Linked DNA regions of Homo sapiens. The protein of the gene in region 1 interacts with the protein of each later gene in a pairwise test. Each region holds a gene or a part of one and is shown on either strand. Other genes may lie near its edges.

Region 1 (3,920 bases):
ATATTTGTACGGTAAAATGCTTTGCATGAGTCATACTTCTGGTACGCACTTCTGTTGCAGGTGACAGCACACTGCCATTTGCAACTTCATCATTTTTTCTTTCTTGCGGCTGTACTTAATAGGAATTAAATGTGTGAAAATAAATAATAACAATAAAGTTATCTATAAAGTTTGAACATTCTTTAGCATTCTTTGTTTAGCAACCACATTCTTCAGCATCTACCAAAAAAAACTCGCATGATACACTAAATTTAAAATGCTATGAAATTATACATTACTCTCTAAAAATAATTGATGTCCAATGATTAAGAAACATTACAAATCACACCAGAAGTAGCAATAGTAGCATACTATGCTATAGTAGACTATATGTTACGTATAAAATAGTGATGAATTCTTCACACAAATCAAATGGGTAAATAAAAACTATAATTATTTCTTTGCAAAATAGCAACAGGTATAACTTAACTGGTTGCATCTAATTTACATTAATATCCTTCATTTAATTTCACATCAGAGGAATATTTTAATGAGCGACTGCATAAAATAACAGTCAAAGATAAGTAATGTTTAATAAAACAAGGAGAGGTTAGGAGCTGTCACTCGTGCTTTCATGACGCTTCTAAATCCAAAGCATTTGCAGACAAGCAGAAGAATTTTCCTTTTCTGCAGGAGAAAGGGAAAGCTGCATTTTAATTTTTGATTCAGCTGAAACTTGATTTTTCCTGCTTAAAAAAATTACACTTTTAGCCAAGGAAAAATGTATTTTTACTCAACATTTTGTCAATTCAACTCTTCAGAAAGGCCATAAAAAGTGGTATTTTACTGAAAAGGAGGAAGTTTGGGAAAACAGCTGGTTACTATCAAAAGAACTTTCTCTAAATAATCTATTCATTTCCAAAGTAAATTCCATAAAGTTTTTATTTTAAAAATTCTTATTTTAAAAATTAAACCAGATCAAACAAAACAAAAAAGATTTCGGGGCACAATCTTTGTGTTATCAGAAAACTCTAAAGACTTTTAAAAAGGCAAAGACTCATAACGAAGAGACCAAGAGAACATATGAGCTATTACAGAATATTGGATTAAAATGTACTTACCCAGGACTCTCAAATATCATACATCTCCATTATGTAGGCTTTAGGCACCAAGCCAATGGCTCCCTTCATTTCTCCTACCCACCAGCCATATCTATTGTATTCCTAATTGAAAACAATATGCAATATTAACCTTTAGACTGGTGTAAGTACAATGTCGTTTGTATGCAACTTCTTAGAAATGTTATTTCTATTTATAAAGTTAAAAGAGCTTGAGCTGCAAATGTAAACATTTTCATCTTTTTGTTTCTGGACACTTTAAAATGCTGTTAGGCAACGATTTAAATTAAGGTATAACACAAAGCCTGTTTATTATTGGGCACAGAACACAGAAACAATCACTCATGATGAAAACCTAGAAAATGAAACTACCTCAGGAAGCCTTCTCTCGGGGACACTCTCTCTCTCCACAGAGCCTGGGGATACCTTTCATGTGTAAGAGGCTATAGAAGGTTAAAGCCAGGATCCTTAAGCTATTATATTTGCCTTCAAGAAGCTTATCATCTAGCAAGGATAAAATAATTTTTTTTACAATAAACTACTTATTTCTTAAACTTATATGACCTAAAATGATTTAGAATGTTGATAGATGTGTGCCCCTTCTTAAGAAAATCTAATATACACACTTTAACAGATAAATTAGAGAATACGGAAACACTAATAATACCAAAAAACTGCTTAAAAAATAATTCACAAATAGGTTCCTTTAAAATAGTTTCCCTAAGGCATTTATTATTCCTTTATTATTGACCATAAACTACCTTAGATAAAGAATAGGTAGAAGGAATTTAAAGGTGCTGTTAGAGTCACCCTTATAGTGGAAGATCAATAGGAAATAAAAGTATCTCAAGGTATAAAGGCAAAATATTAATCTACCTCTAAAACAGAGTGGTCGATGAGTCACTTTTGCATTTACTTTGCAACTTGAGATAAACAAACCTATACCTCCTTTTCTCCCACTTTTTCCTCCTTTGACAGATACACCACTGCTTTAGGCATTGTGAATACTCCATAACCGGTCTCATATGTCTGCCAGATTGACTAATGTATTTTTATCTCAAATTTATTTATGTGTAGTGAGATACAAACAAAGTAAAATGAATTTCAAGTTTCAAGAATAATATCTTCCAAAAGCAATACTCTTCACAAGCATTGTAGTGCTCAAATTTAATTTTTCATATAAGATAAATTTTCAAAATCAATCCCAAAAGTAATTTAATAGGTTATGATTTTCCAGCATCTGAGTCATAGATAAATGTGCATATGTATATTGAGTTATATGTGGGGAGGGAATGTTAATACTAGTACAGACTTAATATTTGTATTGATTAGTATGCTATTGACCATCAGAAAGGAAAATTATGCAATTCTTTAATACAAATGTAGCATTACATTAGCGTGTATGTATTGATATGTAGTCTATCAATAGAGAGATTATAGGATAAAATCCATAGGCACTTTTTCAAACAGTGGGCAGTATCAGGATTAGGTTTATTGGAAGAACAAAGTGGAGGGGGAGAGGGGAGAAAAGACCACTCCTGCTATTGTTATTCTATTGAGGGCACAGCTCTGGCTTGTGAGGCAGTAAACTCAAGATTTTAAGTTTTAAACTTTTAAAGTTCATTGATAGTGTGAACTTAGTGGACGAAGCTGTATAAGGAACGAGGATACTCTGATGCCCAGAACCCAATGATGGCTATAATCTATGTAGGACATATTTATCAGAAGAAAATACTAACTTACTGAAAGTCATGATTAGCAACGATTATATCTTAATAGGTACCTAATAAAACTACCCTTTTCTATTTTTAAGGCAATGAATACAATTAAAGCCTAATGCTTAAAAAAACACACGTACTTAACGTTCCACAGACTACTGTAAGATTTCAAAGTGGATAATTAACAGGGTAGGTCTGAGTGTTAAAGCTCTTATTCAATGCCAATATAAGATTTTTGAAACTGATTATTTGGAATGAGAAAAGGAACTAGCCCCCTGCTCCCCAGTGACAGACATAGAAAACATTCAGTGAGAAGACATATTATTGGCATAAACTTGCTTCCAGAGAATGGCCCTCAATCTGGGGGTCAATGCTTAGATTCAAATTACAAGACAGAAAGTTATTACTTTATAATATTCTACTTTGGTCATAGTCTATGCTATCAACTAAAGGCATGTTATCATTTTCAAAAAGTTACTCACACCCAAATTTAAGAAATTAGTTCCCAAGAAATCACATCAACAAGGGCAGACTTCACAGTTGAGAGAATTCTGTGCTATGGTAGAACAGGAAGATTTATTAACTAGAAAGCATAGTGGTAAACAGCAGGGAGGAGCTTAATCAACTATAAACAAATCCCTTAAAAGTTATACTCTAGGGAGAAAAAAGGTTTAGACTAAAATAATCTTAAATGCTTCACTTAATTTAAAATAATTGAAAAACATAGGAAACATACACTTGATAAAAATACTCTAAAATATCAGATTTAAATCAGAAAAGGTAAAACTAAAAACCAGAATATTACCTTATATTTGTAAAGAATTGCAAATTATATTCCTGTTTGAAATTAATGCATTATGATCAAATATAGTGAGGTAAAAATACAGGAGGCAAATTTATGGATTTACACTGCAGCCATTAGAGTGTTGACAAGACTGCAAATACAGGAGCTTTTTACTTTTATCATTACTATTCTCTGTATGAGCCTCCTGAGCAACATGAATCCCAATTAAACCATTTGCAGCCTATAAATTGGAATGAAAATGCTTCTTGGAGTACAGTATTCTAAACTTTGGCCTGAACATTCAATATTGTACAAGGTTTC
Region 2 (3,920 bases), on another chromosome or scaffold:
GTCTCTGCCAGGTTTTGGTTTCAGGATGATGCTGGCCTCATAAAATGAGTTAGGGAGGAGTCCCTCTTTTCCTATTGTTTGGAATAGTTTCAGAAAGAATAGTACTAGCTTTGTACCTCTTTGTACCTCTGGTAGAATTCGGCTGTGAATCTATCTGGTCCTGGACTTTTTTTGGTTGGTAGGCTATTAATTACTGCCTCAATTTCAGAACTTGTTATTGGTCTATTTAGGGATTCATCTTCTTCCTGGTTTAGACTTGGGAGGGTGTATGTTTGCAGGAATTTACCCATTTCTTCTAGATTTTCTAGTTTATTTGCTTAGAGGTATTTATAGTAATCTCTGATGGTATTTTGTATTTCTGTGGGATCAGTGGTGATCTCCGCTTTATCATTTTTTATTGTGTCTATTTGATTCTGCTCTCTTTTCTTCTTTATTAGTCTGGCTAGCATTCTATTTTGTTGATCTTTTCAAAAAATCAGATCCTGGATTCATTGATTTTTTGAAAGGTTTTTCATGTCTCTATCACCTTCAGTTCTGTTCTGATCTTAGTTATTTCTTGTCTTCTGCTAGCTTTTGAATTTGTTTGCTCTTGCTTCTCTAGTACTTTTAATTGTGATATTAGGGTATAGATTTTAGTTCTTTCCTGATTCCTCTTGTGGGCAGTTGGTGCTATAAATTTCCCTCTACACACTGCTTTAAATGTGTCCCAGAGATTCTGGTATGTTGTGTTTTTGTTCTCATTGGTTTCAATGAACAACTTTATTTCTACCTTAATTTTATTATTTACCCAGTAGTCATTCAGGAGCAGGTTGTTCAGTTTCCAAGTAGTTGTTAGGTTTTCTGTCAGTTTTAATCCTGAGTTCTAATTTGATTGCACTGTGGTCTTAGAGACTGTTTGTTATGACTTCCGTTCTTTTGCATTTGCTGAGGAGTGTTTTACTTCCAATTATGTGATCACTTTTAGAATAAGTGCGATGAGGTGCTGAGAAGAATGTATATTCTGTTGATTTGGGGTAGAGAATTCTGTAGATGTCTGTTAGGTCCACTTGGTCCAGAGCTGAGTTCAAGTTCTGAATATCTTTGTTAATTTTCTGTCTCATTTATCTGTCTAATATTGACAGCAGGCTGTTAAAATTTCCCACTATTATTGTGTGGGAGTCTAAGTCTCTTTGTAGTTCTCTAAGAACTTGCTTTATGAATCTGGGTGCTTCTGTATTGGGTGTATATATATTTAGGATAGTTAGCTATTCTTGTTGCATTGATCTGTTTACCATTATGTAATGCCCTTCTTTGTCTCTTTTGATCTTTGTTGATTTAAAGTCTGTTTTATCAGAGACTAGGATTGCAACCCCTGCTTTTTTTTTCTGCTTTCCGTTTGCTTCGTAAATATTCCTCCATCCCTTTATCTTGAGCCTGTGTGTCTCTTTGCATGTGAGATGGGTCTCCTGAATACAGCACACTGATGGGTCTTGAGTCTTTATCCAATTTGCCATTCTGTCTTTTACTTGGGGCATTCAGCCTGTTTACATTTAAGGTTAGTATTGTTATGTGTGAATTTGATTCTGTCATATGATGCTAGCTGGTTATTTTGCCCGAAAGTTGATGCAGGTTCTTCGTATCCTCGATGATCTTTACAATTTGGTATGTTTTTGCAGTGGCTGGTATTGATTGTTCCTCTCTATGTTTAGTGCTTCCTTCAGGAGCTCTTTTAGGGCAGGCCTGGTGGTAACAAAATCTCTCAGCATTTGCTTGTCTGTAAAGGATTTTATTTCTCCTTCGCTTATGAAACTGAGTTTGGTTGGATATGAAATTCTGGGTTGAAAATTCTTTTCTTTAAGAATGTTGAATATTGGCCCCTACTCTATTCTGGCTTGTAAGGTGTCTGCAGAGAGATCCTCTGTTAGTCTGATGGGCTTCCCTTTGTGGCTAACCTGACCTTTCTCTCTGGCTGCCCTTAACATTTTTTCCTTCATTTCAACCTTGGTGAATATGACGATTATATGTCTTGGGGTTGCTCTGCTCGAGGAGTATCTTTGTGGCGTTCTCTGTATTTCCTTAATTTGAATGTTGACCTGTCTTGCTAGGTTGGGGATGTTCTCCTGGATAATATCCTGAGGAGTGTTTTCCAACTTGGTTCCATTCTCCCCGTCACTTTCAGGTACACCAATCAAACGTAGACTTGGTGTTTTCACATAATCCCATATTTCTTGGAGGCTTTGTTAGTTCCTTTTCACTCTTTTTTCTCTAATCTTGTCTTCTCCTTTATTTCATTAAGTTGATCTTCAATCTTTGATATCCTTTCTTGTGCTTTATCGACTTGGCTATTGATAATTGTGTATGCTTCATGAAGTTCTCATGCTGTATTTTTCAGCTCCATCAGGTCATTTATGTGCTTCTCTATACTTGTTATTCTAGTTAGCAATTCCTCTAATCTTTTTACAGTGTTCTTAACTTCCTTGCATTGGGTTAGAACATGCTCCTTTAGCTTGGAGGAGTTTGTTATTACCCACCTTCTGAGGCCTACTTCTATCCATCCGTCAAACTCATTCTCCATCCAGTTTTATTCCCTTGCTGGCAAGGAGTTGTGATCCTTTGGAGGAGAAGAGGCATTCTGTTTTTTTGAATTTTCAGCTGTTTTGCGCTGGTTTCTCCTCATCTTCCTGGATTTATCTACTTTTGGTCTTTGATCCTGCTGATGTTCGGATGGGGTCTCTGAGTGGACATACTATTCCTTTCTGTTTGTTAGTTTTCCTTCTAAGAGTTAGTGCCCTCTGCTGCAGGTCTGCTGGAGTTTGCTGGAGGTCCACTCCAGATGCTGTTTGCCTTGGTGTCACGAGTGGAGGCTGCAGAACAGCAAAGATTGCTGCCTGTTCTTTCCTCTGGAAGCTTCGTCCCAGAGGGGCACCCACTGGATGCCAGCCAGAGCTCTCCTGTATGAGGTGTCTGTTGGCCCCTACTGGGAGATATCTCCCAATCAGGATAAACGAGGGTCAGGGACCCACTTGAGGAGGCAGTCTGACTCTTACCAGAGCTCGAGCACTGTGCTGGGAAATCCACTACTCTCTTCAGAGCTGTCCGGCAGAGATATTTAAGTCTGCTGAAGCTGCTCCCATATCCACCCCTTCCCACAGGTGCTCTGTCCCAGGGAGATGGGGTTTTATCTATTAGTCCCTGACTGCCTTTTTTTTAGAGTTGCCCTGCCCAGAGAGGAGGAATCTAGAGAGGCAGTCTGGCCAGAGTGGCCTTGCTGAGCTGAGGTGGTGGGCTCTACCCAATTCGAACTCCCAGGCAGCTTTGTTTAGACTGTGAGGGTAAAATGCCTACTCAAGCTTCAGCAATGGCAGACGGCCCTCCTCCCTCCAAGCTCGAGTGTCCCAGGTCGACCTCAGACTGCTGTGCTTGCAATGAGGATTTCAAGCCAGTGAATCTTAGCTTGCTGGGCTCCGTGGGGGTGGGACCCGCCAAGCTAGACCACTTGGCTCCCTGGCTTCAGCCCCCCTTCCAGGGGAGTGAATGGTTCTGCCTTGCTGGCATTCCAGGCACCACTGGGGTATGGAAAATAAAACTCCTGCAGCTAGTTCAGTGTCTGCCCAAATGGCTGCCCAGTTTTGTGCTTGACACCCAGGGCCCCAGTGGCGTAGGCACCGGAGGGAATCTCCTGGTCTGCAGGTTTCAAAGACCATGGGAAAAGTGCAGTATCTGGGCTGGAGTGCACCGTTCCTCAGGTACAGTCCCTCATGGCTTCCCTTGGGTAGAGGAGGTAGTTCCCTGACCCCTTGTGCTTCCTGGGTGAGGTGACACCCCACCCTGTTTCAGCTGGCCCTCCATGGGCTGCACCCACTGTCCAACCAGTCCCACTGATATGAACTGGGTACCTCAGTTGGAAATGCAGAAATCACCCGCCTTCTGCGTTGATCTCA

What was found.
Region 2: the proteins of SKAP2 (region 1) and FRK interact in a protein complementation assay, tested with the Homo sapiens proteins (one study listed by BioGRID).

Annotation. Positions count from the first base shown.
Region 1 is NC_000007.14:26,668,991-26,672,910, forward strand, and holds part of SKAP2 (src kinase-associated phosphoprotein 2), read right to left. Parts: intron 1,203-3,920; coding exon 1,110-1,202; 3' UTR 1,101-1,109; intron 667-1,100; 3' UTR 1-666. UniProt on the Homo sapiens protein: May be involved in B-cell and macrophage adhesion processes. In B-cells, may act by coupling the B-cell receptor (BCR) to integrin activation. May play a role in src signaling pathway.
Region 2 is NC_000006.12:115,935,097-115,939,016, reverse strand, and holds part of FRK (tyrosine-protein kinase FRK), read left to right. Parts: 3' UTR 1-3,920. UniProt on the Homo sapiens protein: Non-receptor tyrosine-protein kinase that negatively regulates cell proliferation.